Linked DNA regions of Homo sapiens: all the other regions are linked to region 1. The links come from fine-mapping of genetic effects on gene expression. A gene starts in region 1. Each other region holds a variant in brackets. All regions are shown on one strand. Distances are between the middles of the regions.

The links.
Region 2: its variant is fine-mapped to the expression of CCDC170 in testis (GTEx, PIP above 0.99).
Region 3: its variant is fine-mapped to the expression of CCDC170 in whole blood (INTERVAL, PIP 0.96).
Region 4: its variant is fine-mapped to the expression of CCDC170 in whole blood (INTERVAL, PIP above 0.99).

What each region holds. Positions count from the first base shown.
Region 1 is chr6:151,490,679-151,498,786 of GRCh38, reverse strand. It overlaps CCDC170 (coiled-coil domain containing 170), which reads right to left and starts at 4,770. Exons shown (of 11, transcript NM_025059.4): 1 at 4,602-4,770. The coding sequence starts at 4,658. LOC124901436 (a long non-coding RNA gene) reads left to right here and starts at 581. Exons shown (of 2, transcript XR_007059817.1): 1 at 581-651; 2 at 1,723-2,380.
Region 2 is chr6:152,235,784-152,243,891 of GRCh38, reverse strand. SYNE1 (spectrin repeat containing nuclear envelope protein 1) reads left to right here. Exons shown (of 146, transcript NM_182961.4): 107 at 1,452-1,652; 108 at 4,186-4,359; 109 at 6,944-7,075; 110 at 7,589-7,785. Among named protein-coding and RNA genes, the nearest start is that of SYNE1-AS1, 140 kb to the left of the region's middle. The variant G/A (reference allele first, on the strand shown) is at 4,476.
Region 3 is chr6:151,451,218-151,459,325 of GRCh38, reverse strand. RMND1 (required for meiotic nuclear division 1 homolog) reads left to right here and starts at 7,200. Exons shown (of 12, transcript NM_017909.4): 1 at 7,200-7,310. It overlaps DCPH1 (damage control phosphatase 1), which reads right to left and starts at 6,860. Exons shown (of 5, transcript NM_024573.3): 1 at 6,740-6,860; 2 at 4,673-4,778; 3 at 754-998. The coding sequence starts at 6,780. RefSeq lists silencers at 3,238-3,532, 6,503-6,622 and enhancers at 3,167-3,924, 6,783-7,232, 7,423-7,472. The variant C/T (reference allele first, on the strand shown) is at 4,541.
Region 4 is chr6:151,575,672-151,583,779 of GRCh38, reverse strand. All of the region lies in intron 6 of CCDC170 (coiled-coil domain containing 170), which reads right to left. Among named protein-coding and RNA genes, the nearest start is that of CCDC170, 86 kb to the right of the region's middle. The variant A/T (reference allele first, on the strand shown) is at 4,868.

The DNA of each region.
Region 1 (8,108 bases):
GTCTGATTGTACTTATACAGCGTGCCTAGAATACTGAAATACAGTCTGATTCCACTTATACACCGTGCCTAGAATAGTCAAATACAGTCTGATTCCACTTATACAGCATGCCTAGAATAGTTAAATACAGTCTGATTCCACTTATACAGCATGCCTAGAATAGTCAAATTCATAAAGAAAGAAAGTAGAATGGTGGTTGTTAGGAGCTGTGGGGAGGAGGAAATGTGAAGTTATTGCTTAATGAGTACAGAGTTTCAGTTTTGCAAGATGAACAAAGGTTTGAAGATGGCTTGTGGCAACAGTTGCACAACAATGTGAATGTACTTAATGCCACTAAACTGTACATTTGTAAGTTAAGATGGCAAATTTTATGTTATATGTATTTTATATGAGGTTTTTAAAAGTAGAAATGATGGGAAGAAAAAGGAAAACAGACTTTAACTCCTTTATAGTTAGCTATGACCAGCTCTAAGTCCTTTGTTTTGAGGAACTATAGCTGCTGATAGAGTGTGTTGCTATTTACATTTGCTTCTCATAACAATTCTGTTGATAGTTATTCTAATTAACCCTTGTTTTACAGAAAGGAAAGAGATGCTCAAATTCCCAACAATGGTATCTACTGGAGCTGTAACTTTGATCTAGGTTTTCCAGGTATGTGAAAACACTGCCACAGCAAGAGAGCCTACAAGCCACCATATGTCTGTGGCTTCTCACTGGTGTCAGAGGATTTGGAATCCAAGCACTTTCCACAGAACTATTGCTACAGCTTTTTGCTGACTGGTGATCCTATTTTATAATTAGGTCACTTTTCTTTTTTTTTTTTTTTTTTTTTTTGAGATGGTGTGTTCAGTGGCACAATCTTGGCTCACTGCAACCTCTGCCTCCCAGGTTCAGGCAATTCTCCTGCCTCAGCCTCCCCAGTAACTGGGATTACAGGCACCTGCCACCAAGCCTGGCTACTTTTTGTATTTTTAGTACAGACGGGGTTTTACCATGTTAGCCAGGATGGTCTCGAACTCCTGACCTCAAGTGAGCCTCCCGCCTCAGCCTCCCAAAGTGCTGGGATTACAAGCATGAGCCACCGCACCCAGCACATTTTCACTGGGTAGCGTTATTTCAAATGCATGACAAAGTTATGCAGTCTTACTGAAAGCTATGTTTGTAAACTTCCCCCAAAGCATATCTCTTTCCTTCATGTTTGGGCTGCTCCACTTCAATTCTCATAATATTGCTGTTAGTATTTGTCACATTTTCCATCCCAGTAAGGCTGTGCTGGTGATCGCATTATAGGTAAATCCAACTTGAGAAGAGTGCAGCATTAAATTTTAGTGTTGATGAAGGAGTAATCTTTTTATGTGTCTGTTTTTCTTGATTGTAAACTCTTTTTTAATTTTTATTTTATTTTTGAGCCAGGGTCTTGTTCTGTTGCCCAGGCTGGGGTGCAGTAGTGCGATCAAGGCTCACAACAGCCTCAACTTCCTGGGCTCAAGTGATCCTCCCACCTCAGCCTCCCAAGTAGCTAGGACTACAGGCCATGCCTGGGTACTTTTTGTGTTTTTTGTAGAGACGGGGTTTTGCCATGTTGCCCAGTCTGGTCTTAAACTCTTGGGCTCAAGCGATCCACACACCTCTGCCTCCCAAAGTGGATTGTAAACTGTCAATTCTTCATTATGAGCAGGGTCAATCTCCAATTCATTTTTGTATCCTCTGTCCCTCCTACAGATTCTCAAAACACTGACTATTGAGATGGTGGCTGAAGTACTGATGGAAGCATTGGTGATGATGGTAGGAGTAGGTGCAGTGGTGTTGACACCAAAGCAAATTCCAAAAGTTACAAAGAATAACGATAGCTAATATTGATATGCACTTATTCTGTCAGACACTCTCTTGAGTGCCTTACATTTATTAACCGTGAAATCCTCAAACTACGTTATGCGATAAGTTTTATGATTCCATGTTTTAGAAGAAAAAACTAAAATGCTGATACATTAATTGTTTTGACCAAGATGTCACAGATGAGTGGTATAATCAGGATTGTTTGAATCTAGTTTTGAGTCTAAAACTAGTATCTCAGTCTCTACAGTATTTTACTTTTCCAGAAAGTTGCAGACTATCACTGCTTTGTAATTTAATGTTTTCAGTCTGGCATGGTAGGAAAAGTACAAAGCTTTTGAAAGAAAGATACAAGTCCCTGCTCCATCATTTCTAATCCAGTAAGCTATTTCCTCATCTTATATAGTGAGAAATTTCTGCCCCGCCTATCTAAATTATAAGATGATCTCAGATAAAGTATTTTGCAAACTGAACATTTAATTGTAATAAATGCTGCCTTTTCTGCAGCTACTTTTGTTCTCAATAAAATTTAGTTATTTTAAGCCAATTAAAATCTCATGCTTAATGGACATTTTCCTTTTGTAGGCAGTGACTTATGCTAAAAATTTCTATCCGAATCAATATTATTACTCAACTAATATGATTTCTTATTTATTGCTAAAGGGGAAAAATCTGGCAGAGGCCACCAGCTGGGGACATCACCAATAATGGGATAAGCTGATATATGCCCCTCCTGATGTGATACTCTGAGACATAACATCTCTTATGTTATTCCTACCCAAAAATCTAATCACGAAGGACAATCAGAGAAACTTACTCTATAAAACGAATGACCTGGACTCTGCAAAAATGTCAGTATCATCAAAGACAAAAACAAACAAACAAAAAAACAAACAAAAAAAATGTGAAGAACTGTTCCAGGTTTGAAGAGACTGGAGACATAACTAAATACAGTGTGTGATCCTGAGATGGAAAAAAAATTGGCAATAAATGGCATAATTGGGACAAGTGGCAAAGTTTTAGTAGGTCGTGTATATTAGATAATATTATTGTCACAATGCTAAACATCCCGATTTTGATCATTGTATGTTCGTTAGAGAATGCCCTTATTCATAGGAGATAACACACCAGAGTATTTACAGATGAAAGGTCATAGGGGACCAGGCATGGTAGTGCATCTCTGTAATCCCAGCACTTTGGGAGTCTGAGGCAGGTGGATCGCTTGAGCTCAGGAGTTTGAGACCAGCCTGAGCAACACGATAAAACTCTGCCTCTGCAAAGAACACAAAAATTATCCAGGCATCATGGCATGCCTGGAGTCCCAGCTACTCTGGAGGCTGAGGTGAGAGGATCGTTTGAACCCAGGGGTGTCAAGGCGGCGGCGAGCCGAGATCGTGCCACTGCACTCGAGCCTGGGTAACAAGGTGAGACCCTGTCTGAAAAAAAGAAGAAAGAAAGAAAAGGAGGGAGGGAGAGAACAAGAGAAAAAAAGGAGAGAGAAAGAAAGAATCATGATGGCTGTAATTTACTCTCAATGGGCTCACCAAAAAAAATATATATTAATAATATAAAAATACCACATACTTATGTATGGTTAAGACACCACATTGGGATAAAAATTAATAAAGTCAAATATGAAAATGTCAGATGAAAGAAAAAACATCTAGTAACTGGCCTCTGAGTTAGAAAGAAAGAAAAAATAGTTTTATTTGCACACAGTGGTACTTATTTTCCACAAATATTCCAGGAATCAGAGAAATCTAAATACAGGTCAGATGTAAAACAACAATCAAAGCTGCTGAATATTAGAAGAATTCCGATGGCACGTTGGAGAATCCAACTCATGTTTTGAATCCACTACATCCCCCAGGGATATCTATGGTCAGTACACAGCGTGGTAGGAAAAGTCCAAAACTTTGGAAAGAAAGAAAAATCCTCCATCATTTACTAATTGGGTGAGTTACTTGCGGTTAGCAGTTGAGCTGAACACAATTCCCCCATCTCTGGCAACTACTCCCAATACACACGATACCCGGTGGGCCCCGATGCCAAGGCCAAAGGGGGATTCTTAACCCAGACTGAGCCAGCCAGATCTTCTTGTGCGCCCAAGTATGCATATGCCCGTGTTCGTGTGTGTGCGCGCCCGTGTTTGTTCGCGTATGTGCCTGTTCGCGTGTGTGCACGAGCGTCTGTGTATGCGCGCATGTTCGTGTGTGTGTGCGCGCGCGCATTGGTACATCTAATACCTGAAAGTCCCCAGTACCTAAGTAACTCCTGGGAGTAAATGAGTAGATGCATTCAGGAACAACTGAATTACCAACGTTTCTGGATTACTTCGCAACGAAAGGGCCGGTGACTCTACTCCGGGCTGGCCCTCCTCCTGCCACATCAGATTTTCCAGAAATTGCTCCGAAGCACACTTCAGTAGCTAAGCAGGGAAAGTTAAATGAAGGAATTCTTTGCTCCCAGGGGTGGCGGGGAGGAACTGCCCGGCCACAGTCTTTCGAATGTCACCGGTTTAAATGGTCAGAGAAGCAGAGTGGCACAACCTAAAATTCAGACGCGCTCCGCAAACTCCGGTCCTGCCCATCCCCTCCTGAAATCAGCGCCCTGGCAGTCCCAGGCCACAGCCCTCGCGGGCACAGAGCTGCTCTGATTCTGCCCACGCCTCCGGGAGGAAAAGGGTGCAAATCAGGGGCGCCTCGGCCCCTCCTGGGTCGTCTATCCCCAGGGCCACCCCCGCGCGCGGCCGGCGGCTGGGACCGTACCTCGGGCGCTGGCGAAGCGGCACCCAGCGCGATATGGCTGGTGCAGTCCAGGCTCATGACGACCCGAGCCCGGGGGCGCGCTCGGACCCGGAACCGGCCCTGAGGAAGCGGCGGCGCCGGGAGCCGGCGGGTGGCGCGGGTGTCTCCTCGGGCAACGGGTAAACACCGCGGGGACGCGGCGGCGCGCGGCTGCGCGCGAGTAGGGTGGCCCGGCCGCAGGAGGCCGGGGTGGACCCCGAACCCCCGAGCGTGGCCTCCGTGGCGAGGGCCTGCAACTGAGCGGCCGAAACTGCCAGGGCGACCTGGGGGGAGTCGGCGGGGATAACGGTCGGTCCTCCCGGTGGGACTCTGCAGTGAATGCAATTCCAGGCCTCATCCTTATGTCAGCGATAAATACAGCCAGTGGGCACTGTGAACGGTGCTGGCGCGAGTGAGGCATAGGAAACTTCACAAGGGTGAACGGAGCATTTATTTAGCACACACTGTGTGCAAATGTGTCTGCGAGCGTGCAACCTGTGCAGGTCCGGGTCCTGCGCTTGGTTTAATACTCAGCTGTCCCAGTCTTGACGTTTTTAGGAAGTTTTGAACAAGGTGTCCTGCATTTTCATTCTGTACCGGGGTCCACAAATTATGTAGCCTGCCCTGGTGTGCGTTCTTTCATTTCACCTTCTCAACAACCCTGCCTGGAAGTACGGGTACTAGTAATACCAGTGTTAGTAACAGCCACAGCTGCTCATTATGAAATACTCGTGCTCGTCCATGCACTGTTCTAAGTGCTTCCCACGTATGATCAATCTCCTTAAATGAAACAAGATTATGAAGTGGATGTTAGAATAATCCATCTGCAAGACAAGGCAACAGTCACAGGGAAATAAAATAAAATTTCCAAGATGTACAGGGTAAGTGGTAGAATGAAGATCAGGCTCCAGATCATAACACTAAAGCACAGAGAAGATGAGTAACTTGTTTAAGGTCCCACAATTTGTAGCAGAATCTGAAAATGGAATCTGCATTCACCTCACTTTAAAGCTTTTGGTGGGCCAGGCGCGGTGGCTCACTCCTGTAATCCCAACACTTTTGGGAGGCTGAGATGGGTGGATCACTTGAGGTCAGGAGTTTGAGACCAGCCTGGCCAAGAAGGTGAAACCCTGTCTCTACTAAAAATACAAAAATTAGCCGGGCGTGGTAGCGGACACCTGTAATACAGCTATTTGAGAGGCTGAGGCAGGGAAAATCATTTGAACCTGGGAGGCAGAGGTTGCAGTGAGCCAAGATTGAGCCACTGCACTCCAGCCTGGGTGACAGAGCAAGAATCTGCCTCAAAAAAAAAAAAAAAAAAAAAGAAAAAAGCCTTTAGTAGACTCCTATGCTGTTTGAGACACATGAAATCAAACAGGTGGGAGGATTGCTTGAGGCCAGGAGTTTGAGACCAGCCTGGGCAATACAGCAAGACTCTATCTCTACAAGTTTTTTTTTTTTTTTTTTAAATTAGCCAGGCATGGTGGTGCACACCTGTAGTCCTAGCTACTCAGAAGGCTAAGGCGGGGCCAGGTGAGGTGGCTCATACCTATAATCCCAGTACTTTGGGAGGCTGAGGCAGGTGGATCACCTGAGGTCAGGAGTTCGAGACCAGCCTGGCCAACATAGTGAAACCCTGTCTCTACTAAAAATACAAAAATTAGCTAGGTGTGGTGGCACATGCCTGTAATCCCAGCTACTTGGGAGGCTGAGGCAGGAGAATCGCTTGAACCTGGGAGGCGGAGGTTGCAATAAGCTGAGATAGCACCACTGTACTCCAGCCTGGGTGACAGAGCAAGACGCCATCTTAAAAAAAAAAAAAAAAAAGAAAGCTAAAGCAGGAGGATAGCTTTGAGCCCAGGAGGTCAAGGCTGCAGTGAGCTATGATCACCACTGCACTCCAGCCTGGGCGACAGAGCAAGAGCATGTCTCTAAAGACAACACAAAAAGGCAAAATCAGAGCTATGGCAGCTTTTCTTGGATTCCATCAGTCATCCTATGTGCATTCATATTGACCCTGAGGATTTCTTCATCTGGACAATGGCTTTTGAGCTCACGGTAACTTTGCCATATATCTAATCCAGAATCATCTCAAGGCTTTCACTTGATGCACCGTTAAAGAAAAAGTTCTTAATGAAAACTTAGGCTTTCAGAAATCTCCTATTAATAGTACAATTTGGAGTAAACACATTTTTAAGTTGTAGTTTTTCCTTGCAGTAGAACCACTACAAACTTGTCAAATTTTCTTTTCTTTTTTTTTTTCAAACAGAGTTTCGCTCGTTACCTAGGCTGGAGTTCAATGGAGCGATCTCTGCTCACTGCAAACTCCGCCCCCTGGATTCAAGCGATTCTCCTGCCTCAGCCTCCCGACTAGCTGGGATTACAGGCATGTGCCACCACACCCTGCTAATTTTGTATTTTTAGTAGAGACAGGGTTTCACCATGTTGGCCAAGCTGGTCTCGAAGTCCTGACCTCAGGTGATCTACCTGCCTCCACCTCTCAAAGTGCTGGGATTACAGGCGTGAGCCACTGCGCCCGGCCAAACTTGTTAAATTTTCAATGAACCAACACTGCCAGAGGAAACACAAAATTGATGAAAACTCAAGACACCTGGAAGAGAACCAGATGGAAATCCTTCTCCATTAACTCTAATCCAATTGTTTAAGAATCCCATGTCATAAAGCCTAATTCTGCTCAGTTTGGTCAACCTTGTAGCTCTTATTCATGAGAATAGAAGATATAAATTTGCAGTCTTTAAAAATCAGCATGAAACAGATTTTTCTCTGTATAAAACAATGTGATTTTGTGGTAACTGGAGGCAGAAAAAGTACTTGGCTCAGCCCTCCCCAGATGCCTTTGAGATTTCTGGGATATCAAGACATGAGCCAAGTGACTCTTCAAGCAGCATCTGATGATGTGATGACGTCAAAGAAGTTGAGCTGGGGGGACCCCGAGGTCTGGACCTTGGAGGAGATGACGATTTGGGCTAGCTGGGACCATGGTGGTAGAACATTTCAGGCTGGGAGTTGGAGGGGGGCGGTCTCTAGGTCTGATAACAGTTTAAGCAAAGGAGGGAAGAAAAAATGTACAAACAAGTTCCAGTCCAGACCTCTCACAAAACCCCGTGTGTGGGCAGCACCGTGTGGCCCACAATACCTCCGTACAGACCTCTGTTTTGGAGTTTTCTTGTGGTGTCGTAAGTTTAGAACTCTGGTTTCCTCCTTTTGCTTGTTTGCTTGTTTGTTTTACAGATGTACATGTTTCTCACGGGAACATTTGTAATATGATAACTTTTGGAGCTTTTGACTTCCGATTGAAAACTTGTCACTGAAATCACTCCTATGACATTTTAATTGTCTAAAGGTTGTTTAAAAGAGTAGGCTTAATTTTAGTATTTTCCTAAACACTTGCTGTGATCTAAATGTTGGTGCTCGCCACCCCAAATTCATTTGTTGGAACCTAATACCCATTGTGATAGTGCTAAGAAG
Region 2 (8,108 bases), 750 kb before region 1:
TCCTTGGATATTAGACCAACAAAATTTAGCATCAACTAGGCAAGCAGTTATGTTCGATCAAGAAAAAATTGTGTACAACTGTGTACAGTCACACAGACACACATGTTAGATTTTCTCTGTGTGCAGAACTATTGAGAACTGGTAACCTCAGTCCAGTACAGGGTTGTGAGTTCTTTCTTTGAGAAAATAAAATAGACCTTATAAACAAAAGAACATTTTTATTTTAACTGTATCTGTCCTTTATCTAACATTTCATAATATCATAAGCCCACCTCCCCCACTTTGTACTTTTTTAGACAGTTTTCCGACAGCACTTAAGCATCAGGTGTAAGAGTCAAATGTCATTGCCGTAAATAGGCATTAAAATTGAACTCTTCCAGATTGAACCATTTTGGCCTGCTAAACCTTAATGTGATATGTTAATCAGGTCCGTATGCCTCAAATAAATTTTGTGTTTGGTGTGTCATCATCTCCTAAAATGTCTTTCCAGTTTAAATAGTTATATACTCCACCACATTTGGCAAAAATATTGCCTTCTTAAGTTTGAAACTCTTTCTGCTCACATTAAACTCCCCTATTTCTCTAGCTCTTTGTTTGAGGGGTAGTCCCAAATATGATTGTTATTTAGCAGGAAAATGTTAAGGATATTATATTCAATTGCTCTGAAATTATATGAATGTTGAGAATACTATAAAAATGGGAATTACATTTTCTATGACATGTCCCTCAGCCACATGGACAGTTTTTCAACAGTTTTACCCCACATCTTATCATAAACTATTGATATCCTGAGAAAACAGTTGTCAAATCTACCTCATGTATCATTTCTAGGAAACACTTTTACATGTCCTTTAAAATCTTAAAATATTAACCTTATTTTTTATAGACATATCTTTATTTCCTTTCATATTTTAACTTATTAAATTTTTATTTTGTAATCAATCTAAATTGCATTTTGATATGTGGCATGAGATAAGACTTTATTTTTCTTCAAAGAGTTGAGTTGTTTCCACATTATTTATTGAATATTTATTTTATCCTTTCAGTGACTTCATACTTACATTTTTATGAATTCAGTTTTTTTTCAGTTTCTCCGTTGTGCTTTATTGTCCGTTAGAAATAAAATAAAATTTAAAACAGCAAGATAAGAATACCAAATAAGATTAATGAAAGAACTTGAACCACCAGGTATCAAGACACAGTAAAGTCACAACGAATATCATAGGCATGAGAATAGAGGTCCAAAGGTCATTTCTTTGTGAAACATGTTTTCAAAGTAAGGCTCATAGAAAGACAAGCAGATGGCCTACAGGTAGAGCGTTTCCAGGAGGCACATCCCTGAAGGCATTTTCTTGGTTGGGTCTCGGGCTTGGTGCGTTCATAGTTCATATGCTTTTAGAGGGTTGCCAGAATATGAATTGAGAGTGAGTCTTGTGGTCTCTGCTTCTTAGGACATGTATGATGAGCTGATGATGATCATTGGCTCCCGGAGGAGTGGTCTGAATCAGAACCTTACACTCAAGAGTCAGTATGAGAGGGCCCTACAAGATCTGGCTGACCTGCTAGAAACTGGTCAGGAGAAGATGGCAGGAGACCAGAAAATCATCGTGTCTTCCAAAGAGGAAATCCAGCAACTACTTGACAAACATAAGGTACATAACAAAAAAGAGTGATAGAGAGAAAATGTAATTGGAAAGCATGCTCTCAAACCCTGATATATATTTAGTAAAACCTAATATTCTCAGTCTTTTATGAGTTCTTACTTGTATAAGTTATTCTTTAAAAATGGCCAAAAAATTTATATTCAAACCCACTGGCTTTCAGTAGCACAGAGAAATTATAGGGGATATGTTTCTATAATGTTGTAAATTAAAAAAGAAAACCAACTTACCTGTAATTTTACCTATCAGTTCCTCACTAGTATTAGCCAGGCTTTCTCCCTAGATGAGCTAAAATCAAAGGAAAACTCAGAGCCTCTCTTCAAAGGAGCCCATCTTCATTCTTAACTCCACTTTTCCCTGTGTTTCCTTTTTGCCCATTTGTCCACCTGGTCCCAGTTACCCTCTTTGCCCTCCCTTGTCCTCGTCAAGGACTCCTCGCTCACTCCTTGCTCTCCTCTAGAAATGCAGAGCTGACTACTCAGATCCAGGGTTGGGTTGGTGTCTTTTACATGCATTGTTTAGATCCTCTGACCCTTACACATATGCTCCTCTAGTTGCTGTAGACTTCAGACTTTCTCCCTGGGAACAGCAAGGCCGTTTACTATGTAATCAAACTTGGGAGGCCCGAAATCACTCCATCATTGTGTGCCACAGCCAAGCTCAGGTTGGACACTACTCCATGGTAGAAGAATGCGTATTTCACACACACACACACACACACACACACACAGCTCTTGCATTATTGGCAATGATTACGAAAGCAATTTTGCCAGTCCAGAAACCCAGCCTTCTAGACTATGGGAATTTCCTGTAGGGAAACTAAAAAAATCCCATTGGGTTATAGAAGTTTAAAATCTTCTACCATTGTGTAGCTCTCTGGTGGCTTGTAAAGGTGGGTTTTTTTTGTCTTTTTCAAATTGTCGTTCCTATTTTTTCCCAGACGTTTTTGTCCAAAGCTTCATGATTTATTAAAACCTTATCATTTGGCTTTGAAAACATTGCTTTAAAGTCCACAGCTGGTGTTTCTCACGTTGTTGACCATAGCAATAAAAGATCATTCTGAGTTATTCCAGAGGGGAAACTAGGATCAATGAGTATAAATAACAGGGAAATAAACCTCAATAGAAAAAGAACTATAAAAGGAGTAAGCTGCCATTGAGCAGACAGCCCTTCTGGCCATGAGAAGTCCAGCCAAGGCTTTTAGGGGAGATGGGCTTGTAAAAGGAATCTCAGCTTTCATTGCATGTTGGGCTAGATGAACTTCAAAGTCTCCTCCAACTTTAGGACTCTGATTTGGTAATTGTTGGTTAAAAATAATGATTCTAGCTTCTACTCACCAGCCCATTTTCTGAGGGAGAGTTCTGCAGTGCTGGTGAGAAGCACAGATAAAGCCACACTGCCCTTGGGTTTGAACCCCAAGCTCTGCCGTGACTAGCTATGTGACCTTGGGCAAGCTACATAGACTGGGGGGACTCAGTGTTCTCATCTGTAAAACTGGAAACAAAACTGCCTATCTCATAGAGTTATAGAGTTGTTAGGAGGATGAGATGAGTCAGATAAAGTATTTATGGAGTGCCTAGCAAACAGTAAGCACATAATTAATGTTAACTGTCATTATCAGTTGCCAGCTCTTCCATTTTATCATGGTACTGGGAACAGGAAATGAGATAAGCTCAATCTCCATTCTCCAGGGTCTATTATACACAAACGGTAACATTTCAAAAACATTAGTAGGATGGCGCAAGGCCTACAGTTATGTTATGTGTAGGTATAATACAAGGAAAGCAAATTTATAATATCAATCAGTGCATATAAAGCTGTGCTTGACAACATGGAATGAGCACGCAAATATCCTAGAAGTTCAGAAAGTAGAGCCCAAGCCCAGCCATGGAGGAAGGAAAGCAATGTTTTTTGTTTGTTTGTTTGTTTGTTTGTTTTGAGATGGAGTCTCCAACCAGAGCTCCAACTGTCCTGGCAAAGAAAAACTCAGAGCCTGTCTTCAAAGGAGCCCACCTTCGTTCTTACCTCTACCTTTCCCTGTGTTTCCTTTTTGCCCCTTTGTACACCTGGTCCTAGTTGCTCCCTCTGCCCTCCCTTGTCCTGGTCAAGGACTCCTCGCGCACTCCTCACTCTCCTCTAGAAATGCAGAGCTGTCTACTCAGCTCCAGCGCTGGGTTGGTGTGAACTCCTCTCCACCCAGGCTGGAGTGCAGTGGCACGATCTTGGCTCACTGCAACCTCGGCCTCCCAGGTTCAAGCGATTCTTGTGCCTCAGCCTCCTGAGTAGCTAGGATTACAGGCACACACCAGCATGCCCGGCTGATTTTTGTATTTTTAGTAGAAACGGATTCCACCACATTGGCCAGGCTGGTCTTGAGCTCTTGACCTCAGGTAATCCACCCACTTCAGCCTCCCCAACTGTTGGGATTACAGGCGTGAGCCACCGCACCCGGCCCTAAACCAATTTTGATTCTAACATAATATATGAATGAGTTGCTGACTTCTTTCTTCCTGAAAAATTGCAGGAATACTTTCAGGGCCTGGAATCTCATATGATCTTGACTGAAACACTCTTCAGAAAGATAATCAGCTTTGCAGTCCAAAAGGAAACCCAGTTCCATACAGAGCTGATGGCTCAGGCTTCTGCTGTACTGAAACGGGCTCACAAGAGGGGTGTGGAGCTGGAGTACATTCTAGAGGTGAGACCATTGATGTCATATCTTCTGTGCTGCAAACTTCCTGCTGCAAAATAGACCTTTAATGCAAGATGTATCTATCCATGCAGTTTGCCTCACATAACCTCAGAACTAGCTGC[G/A]CTCTCGGGCTCAGGACTGCACTTTTCCTATGGTTCTGTGTTGCTTATTCCCCCTGTGTTTTCTGTGTACATTGGGCTATCTGCTGTGCCATGTCGAAAGTAAGATAGATACACACTGACTTCAGACTATGCATGAAGATATTTGGGGTTTTGATATTCAGACTGATAGCTTACTTAAGAGTATGAAAAATGTAGAAATAGGCCAGGTGCAGTGGCTCACACCTGTCATCCCAGCACTTTGGGAGGCTGAGGCGGGTGGATCACTTGAGGTCAGGAGTTCGAGACCAGCCTGGCCAACATGATGAAACAAACCAACATGTTGAAACCCCGTCTCTACTAAAAATACAAAAAATTAGCCGGACGTCGTCGTGGGTGCCTGTAATCTCAGCTACTTGGGAGGCTGAGGCAGGAGAATCACTTGAACCGGGAGGCAGTGGTTGCAGTGAGCCAAGGTCACACCATTGCACTCCAGCCTGGGCAACGGGAGTAAAACTCTGTCTCAAAAAAAAAAAAAAATGAAAGTAAAATGTAGAAATATTTTTTTCTGTCCCAAATGCGGTTGCTCTTGGAACAGAGTAGTGCTCAGTGGTGGCTACTGGCAAGCTATAGAACCCCGTGGAAATGTAGGACATTATTGATGGAACAGTCCCCTTTCTTTCTTCAGTAACTGTACCAGTTGCCCTAAACTGTTCCTGCTTTCTCATTCTTCCTCTTTCCCTTGGAAGTTTTAGAGATTATAATCTCTCTCCCCTTTGTGGACTTCCCCACCCACTCCCACAATATTACTGATCTTAACTGGGTTGCCTGCAGGTCGTATTTGCATTTTTTCTAAATGGGATTTTCCCTGGGCCAACATTTTCATAGGTAGCTAACCCCCAAATCCCAGATGTGGAATTCCCTGATGTGGAATTCCCTATATTTTGGAGAGACATCTACCTTTAACGTTTGAAATCTCTGTAATAATAGTTACACTTTATTGACATGTCAGGTCCCTGGCAAGACTTCTTACATTTACATGAATCCATCTCATCTTTATCATAACCCTTTGAGATAGAATTTTGAATCCCTGTTTCAGCAATGAGTCTGGGAGCAACTGTTTGCCAAGACACGTGGTTAATTGGTGGCAAAGTCAGAGATCACACCTTCATCTGTCTGACTTCACGACCTGAAATGTGTGTTTCTCCATGAAACTTACCTGATGACACCATTTAAATTGTAGCCCCACCAGGCACACACCTGGGCACTCCCTCCCACCCCTACCCAGTTCTGTTTTATTCTTCCACAGCACAAGAACTCTATTATACCATACAACTTATTGTTTGTTTTTGGTTTATTGTTTATTATTGATTGCCTGTCTCTCCTCACTAGAAGGCCTGGGTTTGTGTCTGTTTTATTTACTCCCAGATCCCTAGGCATTGAAAATACCAGGCAATAGATATTTGGTAAGTGTATTTAAAAAGCATGGGTTTCTACTACTGTGCCCTGTTGCCACTCCAACTGCACAGTGAAGTGAGCATACTCACACTGAGAAACTGCTGACCCACAGCGTAAATTACTGGAAAAGACTTCAACTGATCTTTTAAAAAGTGTTTTCCAGTTTTAAATAAAATAAAAGTCTGAACTTAGGAATAAGTGATGTGGTATTTTTCTTTAACAGAATATATAAACTATATATTCATATTTATAGATATGTTTCATATGCAAATGTAATTGATTTGTTTACTCGTTACATGAAAGGCAAACATCCCCATCCTTTTGACTTAAATCCTTACTGTGGTAAAGAATAAAACCATACATACCTGGGCTAGATGTGGTGGCTCATGCCTGTAATCCCAGCACTTTGGGAGGCTGAAGCAGGAGGATCTTTTGATACCAGGAGTTTGAGACCAGGCTGGACAACATAGTGAGACCCCCATCTCTACAAAAAAATTTTTTTTAAGTTAGCCTGGTGTGGTGGAATGCGCCTGTGGTCCCAGCTACTTGGGAGGATGAAGCAGGAGGATCCCTTGAGCCCAGGAGTTCGAGTCTACAGTGATCCATGATTGTGCCACTGTACTCCAGCCTGGGCAACAGAGTGAGAGCCTATCTAAAAAAAAAAAAAAAAAAAAAAGTGCATACCCAATAGAAGGTACACTGCATACATTATTCCATTTAATCCTCATGATGGAGAAGATAGCTATTATTATCCCCATTGTAACGTATGGAAAAGAGGTACAGAGTTTAGTAGCTTACTCACAGTTGTAAAGGGGCTTAGTGGCAGATTCCAGAGCCCATTCACAATGCTTTCAAGGGTCACCATTTGATTACTTGCTTTAAAGCCATCTTTTGCTTCCCAAAGCAAGGCCCAACGCAAACATCTCTGATATAACTTTAAGGAGAGACTGTCAGGCACGTATTTTGCACCCAAGGAAGAATGTCTTTCGCTAATGAGGGTTTTTTTAGCTCACAGACTCATGTTGTGTTTCTAGACGTGGTCCCATCTGGATGAGGACCAGCAGGAGCTCAGCAGACAGCTGGAGGTGGTGGAAAGCAGCATCCCAAGCGTGGGTCTGGTGGAGGAGAACGAGGACAGGCTTATTGACCGCATAACACTCTACCAGGTTGGTGTTACAAGCCGCCACATTGCCTTTAGAAACTTACCAATAGTTTTAACAGAATGTAAACAAACTTGTGATCAATTATTTTATTAGTACTTTTACTTTTCTTTCAAGTTATTGACATTGAAAGGAGATAATGTTTCTGTTATTTATAGTTGGACATTATTAAAAGTCTTTCTTTTTTCTTTTTTTTACTGAGAGCTCTTTTTGAAAATTCAGCCTCCACCAAGCATTTTCTGTAGTTTATGCTGATGCCACACAATTCTTGAAATAATAATTTGACAGTTTTAAATCCACCTAAAGTCATTACCAAAAAAAAAATAATAAACAACAAAAGGAGACTGTCTATACTTAAATATAGATGAAACATCTTAAAGTTTTCAATGTTACTTGAGTGAGTATAGTTTAAGTTTGAATAACAGGTAATGGGAACATTGTAGGTACCAGAGAAATTATAATTCTTAAAGACAAAAATTGCATATCCAAACTTTTAACTCAATAATTTCAATATTTTAGCATTTAAAATCTAGCCTTAATGAATACCAGCCCAAATTATATCAAGTATTAGATGATGGGAAACGACTTCTGATATCCATCAGCTGCTCAGATCTAGAAAGCCAACTAAATCAACTTGGAGAGTGCTGGCTAAGTAACACCAATAAAATGTCTAAGGAACTTCACAGACTGGAAACAATATTGAAACACTGGACCAGGTAATACAATGACTGTTTTGTATATTTTTAGATAAGTGCTGCATTGTATTAATAAGGCTAGTGCGGGTGGGGGATGATGGCTCAAACCTATAATCTCATTACTTGGGTGGCCAATACGGGAGGACTGCTTGAGGCCAGGAGTTCAAGACCAGCCTGGGCAACATAGTAAGACCCCAATCTCTACAAAAAAATTACAAAAGGACTAGGTATGGTGGCACATGCCTGTGGTCCCTGCTATTGGAGAGGCTGAAGTGGGAGGATTGCTTCAGCCTGGGAGGTTGAGGCTGCAGTGAGCCATGATCATGCTACTGTACTCCAGCCTG
Region 3 (8,108 bases), 39 kb after region 1:
ACCAAGTAAGTTGTAACGTTTATTATCTATTTCAATAAACAAAACATATGCTTACTTTGTCCCATCCTTATTTATATAAATGTAACTATTTCAAATTTACATTTTTTACTCAATAAGCAAAACTTCTTTTATTCTAGAAGTCTTTGTTGGAATCTTTAATTAATTCACGCTTTATTTATCTATTTTATTGAGACAGAGTTTCACTCCGGTGCTCAGGCTGCAGTGCAGTGGTGCAATTTTGGCACACTGCAACCTCTGCCTCCCAGGTTCAAGCAATTCCCATTCCTCAGCCTCCCAGGTACCTGGGATTACAGGCCCGTGCCACCATGCCTCGCTAATTTTTTTATTTTTAGTAGAGACGGGTTTCGTTATGCTGGCCAGGCTGGTCTCGAACTCCTGACCTCAAGCAATCTGCCCACCTCAGCCTCCCAAAGTGCTGGGATTACAAGCATGAACCTCAGGGCCTGGCCAATTCGTACTTTAGATATTTACTCTTATGTCTATTCTAGGCAAGTAGATTATAATTGCCAAGAATCTGTTAAATTGGTAACAGCTATAGAAATGTCCATCAGTAACATTTGTAGAAATGTCCATCAGTAACATTTGTAGAAATGTCCAACAATGCTATTAAGATTTGCTAAACTCAACCAAATTCAAGCTTCCACTGGTGCTTATTTTTAAACTTATCCTTTTACAATTTCAGAAAAAGTATAAATTATCTAAACATTTGATAGTTGATGATTACACACGTACCTCTGGATAATTGCTTCATGAATTCTTCGATACATGTAACATTCTACCAACAACCACGGTGAGTAGAACCATCTTGATTTTCCATCACTTTCATTTAAAAGACTCTGTTGATATTCTAGGTACTGATTCCATATATCAGTATCAACAAATTTCTCAACCAAGGGGATAAATGGTTTATCTGTTTGCAATTCATTCCGTAATTTAGAAAGGAGAGAGATAGCTTTCTTTTCAGCTTCCACGCCTTCCTGCAAAAATACAAGAAAAATAAATTGTGTGTGTGTGTGTGTCTGTGCAATTCCTCTAGGGTAACATATTTTTACAGACTTAAGAAGAAAAGAAAAATGTTCAAAACTACATTTTATTTCTTTAAACATTACATTTAGAACTCTTAAACTGAAAATCAAAAAACACACACAGATCTCATATGAACATAATCATGCCTTATCTACCTAAGTTCTGGCCTTTCTGTATCTTCGGTGGGATGACCATTACCACAGAGGGAAAGGAACCCCTGCCAGATTTTCCATGTCTTTCATGCTTCCATACATATTCTTCTTTCACCATTGACACCACTAGAAAAGAAACTGTGGGCTTTCTGAGGTTTCTTTTGGTAGCTCAAATTTTTTTTAACTTGTTTTCCACCAAGTTCTAGCTAGGTGAGAGATGACATATGCTGACAAACAAGGCACTACAATATTATCTCACATAACAGGCCAATTGGAGTGGGGACAAATGTAATGGGATCAGAATGAAGTGAAAATGACTTCACACCTTGGTTTTACATTAGCAAGATTCCTGCTCCATTAAAAAAAAAGAAAATGTAAGCCTAATAAGACACGTATATAATAAAATGTAGAGAATAAACATCAAGCCTGAGTATTTTTATAAGATCATTTTTATCATGTTGATATTTAGTCCCTACTTTCAGATCTGTAATTTTCTCAATATAAACATCTCTCCAATCTTTCTTTTGTTCCAAGTACAATTTATTTTGCTGCTAGAAAAAAAGATTGAAGCTTTCGAGATTCTGCAGGTTCAGAAATAGAAGAAAAGAAGTTGTAGCTGACTGTTTTGAGAGGAACTCCCCCTCCTCCAAATCTCTTCCCTAAAGTCTTAAACTTCAACTCTTTAACTATAAATTCCAACAACTGAGGTTTTACAGGGTGTCAGGCACCCTTTTACAGAAGCATATACCTAAAAAGGCTAATGGATTAATAGTGATGTCACTGCCACTTTGTTCACTTACTTGAATTGAATTCAAACATTTACTGAACCCTGTATGTGCCTGACACTAACCTCAGGGCCAGAGAAAGATGAATAAAGCCTGGTCCTGTCTCCAAGAGACACACATCTGCCAAACCAGGTAGTCTAAGGGCACGGACGTTTGACCGCTGAGGTGGGGGAAGATAGAAAACTGTGTGGCATGGCTCCTTCGGAGATAAGCCTGGCCCTGCTATAGGTGGGGGCTTAGGAAGCTAGAACACATGAGGCCCAAGGAGAGTGGCCATAGGTATAACAGAGGCATGAAAAAGGGACAGAAAGGCTACCAAAAGCAGACTTTATCTGTGTCAATTTACATCTTGTTCTGTGCTCAGTAGAGTGTGAAATGGGGGAGGGCTGGAGAGACAATAAACTCTGCCTTCAGTCACCTGGTGATTACGGGCATACAGGCCAAGTAGCAATATACTAGGACTTCATTAATTACTACATTTTAGATCACTCTGGCCGAAAAAACTGAAATTACAAAAGCATTATGGGGCCAGGCACAGTGGCTCACGCCTGTAATGCCAGCACTTTAGGATGCTGAACTGGGAGAATTGCTGGAATCTAGGAGTTTGAGGCTGCAGTGAGCTATGACTGCACCACTGCACTCTGCCTAGTAGACAGAACAAGACCCTGTCTCAAAAAACAACAACAAGAAAAACAAAAGTATTATGGTAATTTGCTTGCGTATATGACCAAATACTAAAGTGAACTATCCAAATTTGGCTAAATTATACTTGTGTGATAAAGATATGTCAGTTACCAAAATTATGTTTATGTGATAAACATTAAAACCATTCAGCAATATAATTGTCAGTGTCTAAATTAAGCCGGATTTTAGCAACAAGGAACAACAGGTAATCCCTGTGTTATGCCAGGATTAGTTTTAAACAAGACAATATAAAAGAAGTTGAAAGAAGTAGAACATTACACTCAAACTGCATGTGTGTTATCTTGCTCCATTTCAATTTGGCCAAGGAGAAAAGATCACCAACCATTTCTCTAAATTTTTGTTTTCAACTCTCAAAAAAAATGTACTGGTATATGTATGCTCTTTTACAGTCTATTGTGTAATAGAAAGATTACTGAACCTACAAGTTTAAAGACCTATGTCTAACATAACATGTGGGGAAAAGCAAGAGAGATCAGATTGTTACTGTGTCTGTGTAGAAAGAAGTAGACATAGGAGACTCCATTTTGTTCTGTACTAAGAAAAATTCTTCTGCCTTGAGATTCTGTTAATCTATAACCTTACCCCCAACCCCGTGCTCTCTGAAACATGTGCTGTGTCAACTCGGAGTTAAATGGATTAAGGGCGGTGCAAGATGTGCTTTGTTAAACAGATGCTTGAAGGCAGCATACTCCTTGAGAGTCATCACCACTCCCTAATCTCAAGTACCCAGGGGCACAAAAACTGCGGAAGGCCGGAAGGCCGCAGGGACCTCTGCCTAGGAAAGCCAGGTATTGTCCAAGGTTTCTCCCCATGTGATAGTCTGAAATATGGCCTCGTGGGAAGGGAAAGACCTGACCGTCCCCCAGCCCGACACCCGTAAAGGGTCTGTGCTGAGGAGGATTAGTGTAAGAGGAAGGCATGCCTCTTGCAGTTGAGACAAGAGGAAGGCATCTGTCTCCTGCCCGTCCCTGGGCAATGGAATGTCTCGGTATAAAACCCAATTGTATGTTCCATCTACTGAGATAGGGAAAAACCGCCTTAGGGCTGGAGGTGGGACATGCGGGCAGCAATACTGCTTTGTAAAGCATTGAGATGTTTATGTGTATGCATATCTAAAAGCACAGCACTTAATCCTTTACATTGTCTATGATGCAAAGACCTTTGTTCACGTGTTTGTCTGCTGACCCTCTCCCCACAATTGTCTTGTGACCCTGACACATCCCTCTCTCGGAGAAACACCCACGAATGATCAATAAATACTAAGGGAACTCAGAGGCTGGCGGGATCCTCCATATGCTGAACGCTGGTTCCCCAGGTCCCCTTATTTCTTTCTCTATACTTTGTCTCTGTGTCTTTTTCTTTTCCAAGTCTCTCGTTCCACCTTACGAGAAACACCCACAGGTGTGGAGGGGCAACCCACCCCTTCAATAACATAGTTATTTGGATTTTTCCTCATCCATTAATTGAATGGACAAAGTGATTTCTAAAGTCCTATTCTGCACTGAATGCTAATGAGTCCCAACTTGAATCAGTACAATGTGTCAATCAATTATAATTCATATCACTGAGCTTTGCATAGCAGCTTGAACTTCCAGGACTCAAGATCTCAAATTAGTAATATAAATACTGCAACTCAAATTAAACTTGAAATTTAAAAAGCTCTTCTAAGCAACTCAATTGCTTAGTCACTTGACTAAGTCAATTGCAAGTCTGTTGCCCAGTCACCAATTACAACATTGCATATATTAGAAAATACATTCTGAAGTCTAAATAACTGACAGAATTAATTATTGGAACACAATCATTTTCTAAATTGAAGATTGGCTGTTCTATCTTCATTTCAATGTATTA[C/T]CTTAAAAACAAATAAATACTTGGCCCATCTATTGATTTTTACATTTAAAGGAAAATTGATACCTTCAAGAACTATTTATTATGTTTCTGTTGAGAAATTAACAAAAAATTAAAAGTTAAAACAATTCTTACCTCTCCGTGTTTCTCAAAAAATTCACTTTTATGTCGATGCAATGTATCAATAACCTTAGTTAAGATCTGTGGTATTCTGTCTTTAATTGTAAGATATGCAAATGATCTAGAAAAGAGTCACATGCAATATATAACTTAGCAGCATCAATACTAGAAGACTGGCTATCTTTTAGTTTCTGGAACACTTCATGTATATTAAACTCCTCATACAACTATTAAAAGATAGACAAGTATTGTATGATTACTATATTAAGACATAAGAAAACCTGGAAAATTCGCTGGTATGTCATGGAAGCCAAACTGTCTTGGTGCCTCTAATCCCAGATTCTCCCATGGAGTCTGTTTAATCATTCTTATCTTTCCTATTCTATTGCTTTTATTTTCCTAAATCAGAAACTCGCTTAGCAAAGTGATAGGATAGGGAATGGATTAGCTTAGAAATCAAACAGGCTCTTGTCCCAGGTCTACTATCTGCTAAGTCACCTGCTTAGAAAGATGAATGAAGCAATGCATCTAAAACCACCTAAAGGGTCTAATGTGCTTGAACAACATAAAGAATTAAAGGTACTTTTAAGCCTGTTTCTCTCCATTCTGTCTATTTTCTAAGTCAATTTTAATTATTTTCAAAAATTTTCCCCTTCTCTGCCTTCTCTATCTGCACAATGGACTCCTTCCATCCTATTCTGCCCCTAAGCAAATGAAGGCGTGCTACTGTCTCTTCCCACTCAAAAAATCAGAGATTTTATAGAAGTGTTCAAGAATGAAGCAAGCTGGAGATGAAGAAAAACTTATACCTGCATTAAAAAATTAAAGATATTCTTGATTTTATTCATACAAAACCCAAGATTTACAGATTATCATTTTATATCATTCTAAGGAAATACATGATACAGGTAGAAAAAAAGCTTTATTTGGTGGAGAAATTCTGTGCAGTTTTAAATATAGAGCACAGAGCTTAGCTGACTAGTGTTTTTATCTCCAGATCACAGGAGACAATTGTTAAATTACTAGATTGTAACTTGGGTATTTCTTCAAAAGGTTTCCTCAAATGATAGCTATAGAACTTTAAGAAAAAAACTGCACACACTTTCCGACTCTGTGGTGCTTTCAGTACCACCCAAAACAGTGATTAGGTTTTAATGCGCATAATAACTACGTTGATCAGAATTTAATTTTTAAAAATCATTAATAAAAGAAATCACTAATACCTCAGAGGGTGAGCAGGAACATTAAATCAACTGTCACTTGAATTTTCCCAGGCAGTAGGTATAGTAAGTCCTTTTTTGAGATTTTACTTTAATTGGAAAGTATTACTGTTTTCCTAACTACTACATTTCCTGCACCTCTGGAACAAAGTCTCTGGCCAGGACTGGAGTGAGGCCAGAAGCCCTAGGGCGCAAAATTGAAGGAGATACTCTCTATACTTGCATGACCTGAAACAGTGACTGCCTCAATTTGGGGCCATTGGCGCCACTTTGTTGGCCTCAACCTACTTTCTGCCCAGGTTTATTTTCTTCAAAGTGTTCTCGTCTTTTGCAATATTTTGAAGTAAGGACAAATTTCAAATATAAATTTGGCCATTCGATTTATGCAAATGGATGTTATTTGCACGGTCACCCACAACTTTACCCAAGAATCAGTAGCGTGACGACTATAAAGCAAAAAACTAGACAGTTCTTACTGTGAGATTACGATTTGATCAACAACAGGGAGAAACCCGTTTCTTAATAGCGCTGAGATCCCCAACTCTTACGCAGAATTTTAACGCCCCCAAAGCGCGTCTATTAAAGTGAATAAATAAAAAGTGACCGCCAGGAACAGACCGCGAAGCTGACCCCTGTCCTGATCCTTACGAGCAGCCGCCGCGGGCAGGCTCCCTCCCCGGGGCCGCCTCCCTTCGCCTCCGAGCCAGTCCGCGAAACCCGCAAAGGCGCCCCGGAAAGCCGCGCCCGGCGGCGGGACTCGAACGCAGCCCACCGGGGAGCGGGCGCCCTCCGCTTAGTCCCCACAGGCTCCCGGCGAGGCCCGGCTTTCCGCAAAAGTGGGGAGGAGAAAAGCTAGACTAACCCCACGTCCTGTCCTGAGAGAGACGCCGGGACGACAGCCATCACTTTCCGCGATCCCGGCCGCAAAGCTCGGCTGTTCAATCGCCGCAGAAACAGAGGCGGTACCGCCGCGAAGGAGGAGCTGAGAATGGGGGTGGTGTGGCTTTAAAAAAAAAGTGCTTTTGAATAAAGAAACTTTATTTGGTGCCCGATCAAACGGCAAACAGTGGCTCGCCAGAAGACCCAATCTTCCGGGGACGAAGGCGGGGCCAGCGGAGGGCGACTAGAGGAGCGGATATGGAAGCGAGCGAAAGCCGGAAGCAGGCAAGGGACCGGGAGGTCCCAGGGCCTAGGGAGCGGAAGAGGTCGCGGCGACGCGGCTCACGTGGTCAGACAGTCACGTGGCCCGAGTTTCTCCCGCTAAGTGGGACCAGAGTTCAGTGCGGCTGCGCAGTAGCGGGGGTGGGCGGGAGCGCCCTTCCAGGAGATGGGTTGGCTGCAGTAGTGAGAGGCTGGGGGTGCGGCTCTTTCCCTGCAGTCCTGCCGAGGAAGCGTGCGTCCCTGGCGCTTCCTTCTTCTCTTCCGGCGGAGAGGTTAGTGTATTGCCTTTTCTTTAGCAGCTCGAGTGGTCCGGCTTGGAGGTCTGCGCCCTGGCTCCTGGCCGCCCGGAACGTGTACAGTTACGGGTTACGCCAGTGCGGCTGTGACCCTTTGCCTCTTACCGTGATCTTTGGTCAGCTTAGCTGGGAGTAAAAAGCACTCAATTAATGAACCCTTTTTTTGAGCCAGTGCACCGCGGTAACTGTAGAAATCGATAAAATAATTTTGAGTTTGAGGAATTGAACGGCATACTCCCAAAGATGAGCGCCACTTAGCTCTCGAATCGTAGCCTAGCTGTAATCGATTTTCTTAATTGGTGTAATTGTTCTCTAAAAGTTGAAATGTGCCCGGGAACTGAGTAACTGCCTTGTATTTCATTTTAAAAATTCGATCGAATGCCTACTATGTGCTGGGCGCTATTGTCAGGAGATATAATAGGAAAAAACACAAATCCGTATCCTCAGGGAGCTTCCATTCTGGAAGGAAGACACAAAAATCTGCCCTTTCCTCTTATTTTTTTCCTTTAGCTTTGTGTCTCACGTATTTTACTGATTTACCTCGTTTTGTCTGTCACTCCCAATGCAAGGTTCAAAAGATTCAAAAGATAGGATTTTTGTCTATTTTATTTTCAGCTGTATTGTCAGCAACTAGGACAATACCTGGCACATGATAAGAACTGAGTTCGTTTGCAGTATGAATTAATAAACTAAAAATTAAAGGTGTGCAAGTGATGTTAAACAATGGAGAAATGCAAAGTGGAGGAAGATAAGAGAATGGATGCTGGTTGTGTT
Region 4 (8,108 bases), 85 kb before region 1:
TTTCAAATGAAAGGAAGAGTCAGGCTGGGCATAGTGGCTCACGCCTGTAATCCCAGCACTTTGGGAGGCCAAACTGGGTGGATCACCTGAAGTCAGGAGTTCAAGACCAGCCTGGCCAACATGGCGAAACCCCATCTCTACTGAAAATACAAAAATTAGCTGGACGTGATGGCTCATGCCTGTAGTCCCAGCTACTTGGAAGGCTGAGGCAGGAGAATCACCTGAACCTGGGAGGCAGAGGTTGTAGTGAGCCAACATCACGCCACTGCACTCCAGCCTAGGTGACAGAATGAGACTTCCATCTCAAATAAAAAAAAGCGAAGAGTCGCACTTCTCTCATTTTAACTCAAAAGATGGAAATGACTAAGCTTAGTAAGAAAGGCATGTTGAAATCTGAGATCGGCCAAAAATTGGGCCTCTTACTCCAATTAGCCAAGCTGGGAATAGAAAGGAAGCGTTCTTGAAGGAAATTAAAAGTGCTACTCCAGGCCAGGCACGGTGGCTCACGCCTGTAATCCCAGCACTTTGGGAGGCCAAGGTGGGTGGATCACCTGAGGTCAGGAGTTCAAGACTAGGCTGACCAGTATGGTGAAACCCCATCTCTACTAAAAATACAAAAATTAGCCAGGCGTGGTGGCAGGCGCCTGTAGTCCCAGCTACTCAGGAGGCTGAGACAGGAGAATCACTTTAACCCGGGAGGCAGAGGTTGCAGTGAGCTGAGATTGCGCCATTGCACTCCAGCCTGGGTGACAGAGCAAGACTCCGTCTCAAAAAAAAAAAAAAAAAAAAAAAAGTGCTACTCCAGTAAACACACTGATACAGTGTGGATATTTGTCCTCTCTAAATCGCATGTTAAAATTTGATCCTCACAGTTGGAGGTGGGCCTAGTGGGAGATGTTTGGTTCATGGAAGCAGATCCTTCATGAATGACTTGGTGTCATTCTTGCAGAATTGAGTGACTGCTCACTCTTAGTTCCCATGAGCTCTGGTTGTTGAAAAGAGCCTGGCACCTCCTCCTCTCTCTCCCTTTCTTTCTCTCTGGCCATGTGATGCCTGCTCCCCTTCATCTTCTGCCATGAGTGAAAGTTTCTTGAGGTTCATTGCCAGAAGTAGATGGCACTGTGCTTCTTGTATAGCCTGCAGAACCATGAGCCAAATAAACCTCTTTTCTTTATCAATTACTCAGCCTCAGGTATTCTTTTATGGCAACACAAAAGGACTAAGACACACACAAATGATAAGAAAAAAAACAGCCTTATTGCTGATATGGAGAAAGTTTGAGTGGTCTGAATAGACATCAAACCAGCCATAACATTCCCTTAAGCCAAAGCCTAATCCAAAGCAAGGCCCTAACTCTCCTTAAATCTATGAAGCCTAAGAGAGGTGAAGAAGCTGCAGAAGAAAAGTTTGAAACTAGTAGAGATTGATTCATGAGATTTAAGGAAAGAAGCCATCTCCATAACATAAAAGTACAAGATAAAGCAGTAAGTGCTGATGTAGAAGCTGGGGTAAGTTATCCACAAGATCTAGCTAAGATCATTGATGAAGGTGGCGACACCAAACAACAGACTTTCAATGTAGGCAAATCAGCCTTCTATGGGAAGAGGTTGCCATTTAGGACTTTCATAGCTAAAGAGGAGAAGTCAATGCCTGCCTTCAAAGCTTCAGAGAACAGGCTGACTCTCTTGTTAGAGGTTAATGCAGCTGGTGACTTGAAGTTGAGGCCAGTGCTCATTTACCATTCTGAAGACCCTAGGCCCCTTAAGAAATATGCTAAATCTATTCTGACTGTGCTCTAGAAATGGAACAGCAAAGCTGGATGACAGCACATCTGTTCACATCAAGTTTTACTGAATATTTCAAGCCTACAGTTGAGACCTATGGCTCAGTAAAAGATTCCTTTCAAAATATTACTGCTCATTGACAACATACCTGGTCACCCACGAACTCTGATGGAGATGTACAAAGAGATGAATGTTGTCTTCACAGCTATTAACACAGCATTCATTCTGCAGCCCATGGATCAAGGAATAATTCTGACTTTAAAGTCTTATTATGTAAGAAATATACTTCATAAGGCTACAGCTGCCATAGAGAGTGATTCCTCTGATGGATCTGGGCAAAGTAAATTGAAAACCTTCTGGAAAGGATTCACTACTCTTGATACCATTAAGGACATTCATAAATCATAAGAGGAGGTCAAAATAACATCATAGGTGTCATCTATGAGATGATTCTGAGGGGTTCAGGACTTCAGTGGAGGAAGTAACTGCAGATGTGGTGGAAATAGCAAGAGAACTAGAATTAGAAATGGAGCCTAAAGATGTGACTGAATTGCTGTAACCTCATGATCAAACTTGAATGGATGAAGAGTTGCTTCTCATGGATGAGCAAAGAAAATTATTGAGATGAAATTTACTCCTAGTGAAGATGCTTGAACATTGTTGAAATGACAATAAACATTTAGAATATAACATAAATTTAGCTGACAAAAAAGCAGCAAGGTTTGAGAGGATTGACCTCAATTTAGAAAGAAGTTCTGCTGTTGGTAAAGCGCTATCAAATAGCTCACATGCTACAGAGAAATCTTTTGAGAAAAAAAAGAGTCAATTGTTGTTTTCAACTACGTTGTTGTCTTATTTTAAGAAATTGCCACAGCCACCCAACCTTCAGGAACCATCACTCCGATCAGCAGTAACCATCAACATTACAGCAAAACCCTCCACCAGCAAAAAGATTATGACTTGCTGAAGGCTAAGATGATTGTTAGCACTTCTTAGCAATAAAGTATTTTTAATTAAAGTATCTATATTGTTTTTTAGATATAGGGTTATTGCACACTTAATAGACTACATAGTCTAGTATAAACATAACTTTTATATGCACTGAGAAACCAAAAAAAATTGTGTGACTCACTTTATTGTGACACTTGCTTTGTCGCAGTGGTCTCTGAGGTATGCTTATACCAATTAAGAATGTTGCAATGCAGATTGAAGTGCTACATGAGGAAGGTTAGACCACCTGAGCTCTAAACTCTTCAATCCTGTGCTTCCATGGCTCTCAAGCTTCCAGACATTCAATTAATTTAACACTTCTGTGTGTGTGCTTGAAATTAGATATTTGATGGTAAGCTATTCAGAGCCACATCCAAGGAATTACATTTACCAAGGAAATTTTTAGTGTCATCCCAGAACATGAAGCTCTGAGAAACCTCATTTCTTATTTCCTACCTTTCCTGCTTACCAATAATAAAAAATCTACTGATACATTCATAGCTATATTAGTAAGTATAACTTACTAATATAGCAGATAAATCTGATCTTAACGCAAGAGAAACAGTGTTTATCTTGGTATAACAAATAATGTAATCTACAGAAAAATGTCCACAAGATGCTGCCTCCCAAGGGACTGATTTGCATTATTAGGAGTATAGCACATCAGGAGATGTGGTTTCACGTTGGACTGCAAACAGGAAGTGAGTATTTCTACCTGAAGACCCTTCAACGTCTCCTATACCACAAATGACATAGCGGAGAGAATGAAACCAAAGAGAAAATTGATTCAATAAACCTCAAGCGGAGAGAGGGAGAACTGTGTGATCAGTTAGCCATAGTCAGCACACCACCGAATTTACTGGAAAAAAGCAAGCCTTCTGTAGACATCAATCAGTATGGTCTCCATTCTGAAGCTGATGCCCAGAGTAACTGCAGTAAGTTAGACTAAGGGAGTGATACTGACCCTAAAGGAAGATGTAAGCATCTGACGTAGACCAGAGTGCAGGACGGAGGCTTTGGAGTCAGATAGCCCTGGTTTCAATTTCCCCTGTACCACTTACTAGCAGGTTAACTGAAGCAAGTAACTAATCTCTCTGAAATTCGTAGACTTTGCTATGAAGACTCAATGAGCTGATTTAGATAATTTACAGTATTTCACACCATATTGAAGTTCAACACATCGTGTCCATTTCCGTCATCAGGGTTACTGCTCCAGTGTACTGGTTCTGTCAATCCTATGCTGTCGCCATGAGGAGCTAAAGAACCCTCCAGGAATTGTCCTATGTCATGTTTCTCAAACTATTTTCAGCATAGTCTTTCTCTCAACTAGAAGTCTTTCTAGGAAGAACAAATAAGGGACAAATGTGTTTGAATCAAAGGCAAGAAGGTCTCTCTTGCATCTTCACCCCATCTGGACCTGAGGGTGCTCTACAGAGCCTTGAGACTCAGCGAAGTGAGACTTTAAAACCACTAATACGTAGATCGCTGAAATTTGCAGGGGATACCTGCCATGCCAAGATTCTTGTGTCCAGAGAGAAGAAAACAGCTGAGAGCCCTCCTGCACTCTATCAGATCACAGAACGTAGCTTCAGAAGCTTATTTAGGTGTCAGTGCACATGACACCACTAAGTTTTTTTCTAACTAAATTTAGATAAATTAATTCAAATAAATTAACTTTCCATTCTGACTTATTCTTGGGAACATCAAATGCCAGTGCCTGAGTGAACATATGTGCTCCACCAAAACCGTAAACTTGTGCTGTTTTTCACACCAAAAAGTCTAAACAATAAATAAGCCTTTCTTTCTTTTCTTTTCTTTTTCTTAGGATCATTTCTTAACATATACCTGATATTCTATGGGACAAAATGCACCAGATATTTCAACACTAGAGGTGGGCAGTGGAGGGTGAGGGGTGAAGAATACATACCTTTAAACAAAAAAGATATTTTTTTGTTTGTGCTTTTTTTTTGAAACAAAAAGCACAATATAGTTAAAGAATAAGCTGCATGGTTTTTAGAAGTAAAGTCATAATGCCCTAAAAGATTTAATTCACTCCCCAGGGACAACTATGCATTGATTTCACCAGAGAGACA[A/T]TTTTGTCCTAAAATTAAACCAAATAGAAGCCAAAAAGTTCTACACTGAAGAAAGAGCCATTTGGGTCACTTAAAGTCCAGTTCCTTTTAGACATAAACTCTTTTCCAATTACTCAAGCTATAATTTGCACTTGGGGAATATGTAAGTTATCAGGTACTAGAAAGTGTCGACCAAATCCTCCTTCCCTTCTGTCGGCTTGTGTGACCAGCACTGTTGACTGGCTAACTCTATCCCACCTCCTCTGTTCATCTCAACTTTTGTTTTGAGTTAAATTAGGTCCCCCTCAAAAAAGATATGTTGAAGCCCCCCAGTACCTCAGAATGTGCCTTTCTTTGGAGATCGGGTCTTTAGAGTGGTGATGAAGTGAAAACGAGGTCCCTAAGGTGGACCCTAATCCCAGATGACTGAGGTCCTTATAAGAGGGGAAATTTGGACACGAAGACCGACATGCATAGAGGAAGGCAATGTGAACACACAGGAAGAACACTATCCCTACAACAAAGAATGCAATGCCTGAGGCCAGCAGAAGCTAGGAGTGAGGCATGGGACAGACTCTCCCTCACAGCCCTCAGAAGGAACCAACCCTACTGACACCTTGATGCCAGACTTCTCATCTCCAGAACTGTGAGGCAAGAACTTTCTGTTATTTAAGCCGCCCAGTTGCGGTACTTTGTCGTAGCAGCCCCAGGAAACTCATATAACTGGAGAGGCTGGAAAAGCTGAAACTTCCATCTGTTCGCTCTCTCAGATGCCTCTGTAGCCCGGAGCAACCGCACAACATAATTTTGGATAATGAAACGTCCCAAATGGAAGTGTGCTGGTGCTTCTGGGAAGATGCTCACTTTAGTAGGTGGCAGGGTTAAGAACAGAGCAGGAGAATGATAATCGGGCTCTGAGATCAGAATGGGGAGGAGGGGGCTGTGAAGCACATCTCCAGTCCTTCACAGCAGAGATCACCAGCCTTTTTGTCACCAGAGACTGGTTTCGTGGATGACAATTTTTGTGTCAGAATGAAACTGTTTCACCTCAGATCATCAGGGATTAGATTCTCATAAGATGCACGCAACCTAGATCCCTCGCATGCACAGTTCGCAATAGCGTTCACGTTCCTATGAGAATCTAATGCCGCTGCTGATCTGACAGGAGGTGAACTCAGGAAGCAATGCTCGCTCGCCCACCGCTCACCTCCTCCTGTGCAGCCCATTTCCTACTAGGCCAGGCACTGGTGCGGGTGCGCAGCCAGAGGGTTGGAGACCCTTGCTTTATAGCATCGGGGGGGGTCCCCACAGCTCCCACAGAGCCCCTGGACCAGCAAACACCTCAAGGAAGGAAATAAAGCCTTAGGTGTACCTAAAGCAGAACAGGAAAAATGTCCAGATAGAGGTGAAGAAGAAAACAAAATTGCCTCAAAATTCTAAAGTAAAATCTGAAAATGTCGTAACTTTCTGTCATTGTGCAAGAAGTCATTATTTCATAAACAACTGCTATGGTGTCCTGAAATTCCAAGGCTAAGTAACATCTAAATACTCATTTAGAATTCGTGGGAACCTGGCAGTAGAACATTCCTCTAAGACAGTGGTTTTCAACTGGGGGCAATTTTGACCCCCGGCGGACATTAGGCAGTCTCTAAAGACATCTGTGGTTGTCACAAACTGGGAAGGGGAGTGCTACTAGCGGGTAGAGGCCAAGGACGCCGCTCAAAATCCTGCAATGCACAGGACTGGCCCCCAGAGCAAAAAATTATCCAGTCCAAAATGTCAATAGTTCTGAGGATGGAAAACCTTGCTCTAAGATATAGTAAAGCTTCTAAAAAGAAGATTAGATCTTGCCAGAAGCAGATATGCAAGGAACAAGTAGAAATGACGTGCTGTAAAAGTGTGGGTGGTGTCCTGAATTCTACTGAGAATTGCAAACACAGGAGGGGAAAAATGGATAGCACAGGGGTAAACAAGACAAGCAACGTTCGGGAAGCAGGAGCCGGCCTGAAGCGGAGAATCTGCCAAGCTGAGCCTGAACCCGCCGTGGAGCCTTCACATCAGAATTACTCAGCCACTGACTGTGTGCGTAGCCATGGCAGCTGGCAGGGACATGCAGCCTCCTCAACAAACAGATTCATCAATTTGTAAAGCTCCCATTCTTTAGAAACATTTCTAAGACAATATATGAAATCCATTTTCTCCTGATTTTACGTGAAGATGAGTCACACAAGACACCAGCTATATGCTTGATTTCAGGCTTTTAAATAGGGAGGGCAGCTATTGAAAAAAATTACAGGGTAGGAATGGCAGACAAAGGCACTAAAAAGACTCTGAATCATTCTAATTTTTATGGGGAGTGGGAGAAAGCATACCCAGCTTAACCAATTTACATCATTTGGCTTTAGAAAATAAACATATACATCATGCTGATAATTATGCGCCTTGTTTGGGATTAAAGTAGTTTTAAGAAACTACTTGAAAATATAGAAGTGGAAAGCAATAAAATGAAATGGCAAAAAAAAAAAAAATTAGCTATTGAAGTACAGATGCTCCTCGACGAATGGTGAGGTTGTGTCCCAACAAAGACGTGTTAGTTGAAAGTTCCTTAAGTCAGAAATGCATTTAATATACCTAACCTACCGAATATCATGGCTTCGCCTACCCTACCTTAAAAGTGCTCAGAACACTTACATTGGCCTATATTTGGGCAAAATCATCTAACACAAAGCCTATTTTATAATAAAGTATTGAAAGTCTCATGTAATTTGTTGAATACTGAAAGTGAAGAACAGGATGGCTGCATGCACACTCAAAGTGTGGTTTCCACTGAATGTGTATCACTTTCACACCATCGTCAAGTTGAAAATTTTTTAAATTAAATTTTCATGAGCTGGAAATCGTCTGCATATCTGTTACCATTTAAGGAAATGACTTAATGAAGCTTATTTCCAAACCTATAAATCATTTTCTTTCTCAAGTACCTCCATGTAAACTGAGTCACAAGAAAAACTAAGTTACTCGCAGAGACCTCTACACATTAGAGTGGAGGACAGCCAATGAGCACTCCACATTTTATCTCCACAAAGAGATAGAAAATGCACTTGGCAGCCGGGCACGGTGGCTCACGCCTATAATCCCAGCACTTTGGGAGGCCGAGGCGGGTGGATCACAAGGTCAAGAGATCGAGACCATCCTGGCCAACATGGTGAAACCCCGTCTCTACTAAAAATACAAAAATTAGCTGGGTGTGGTGGTGCATGCC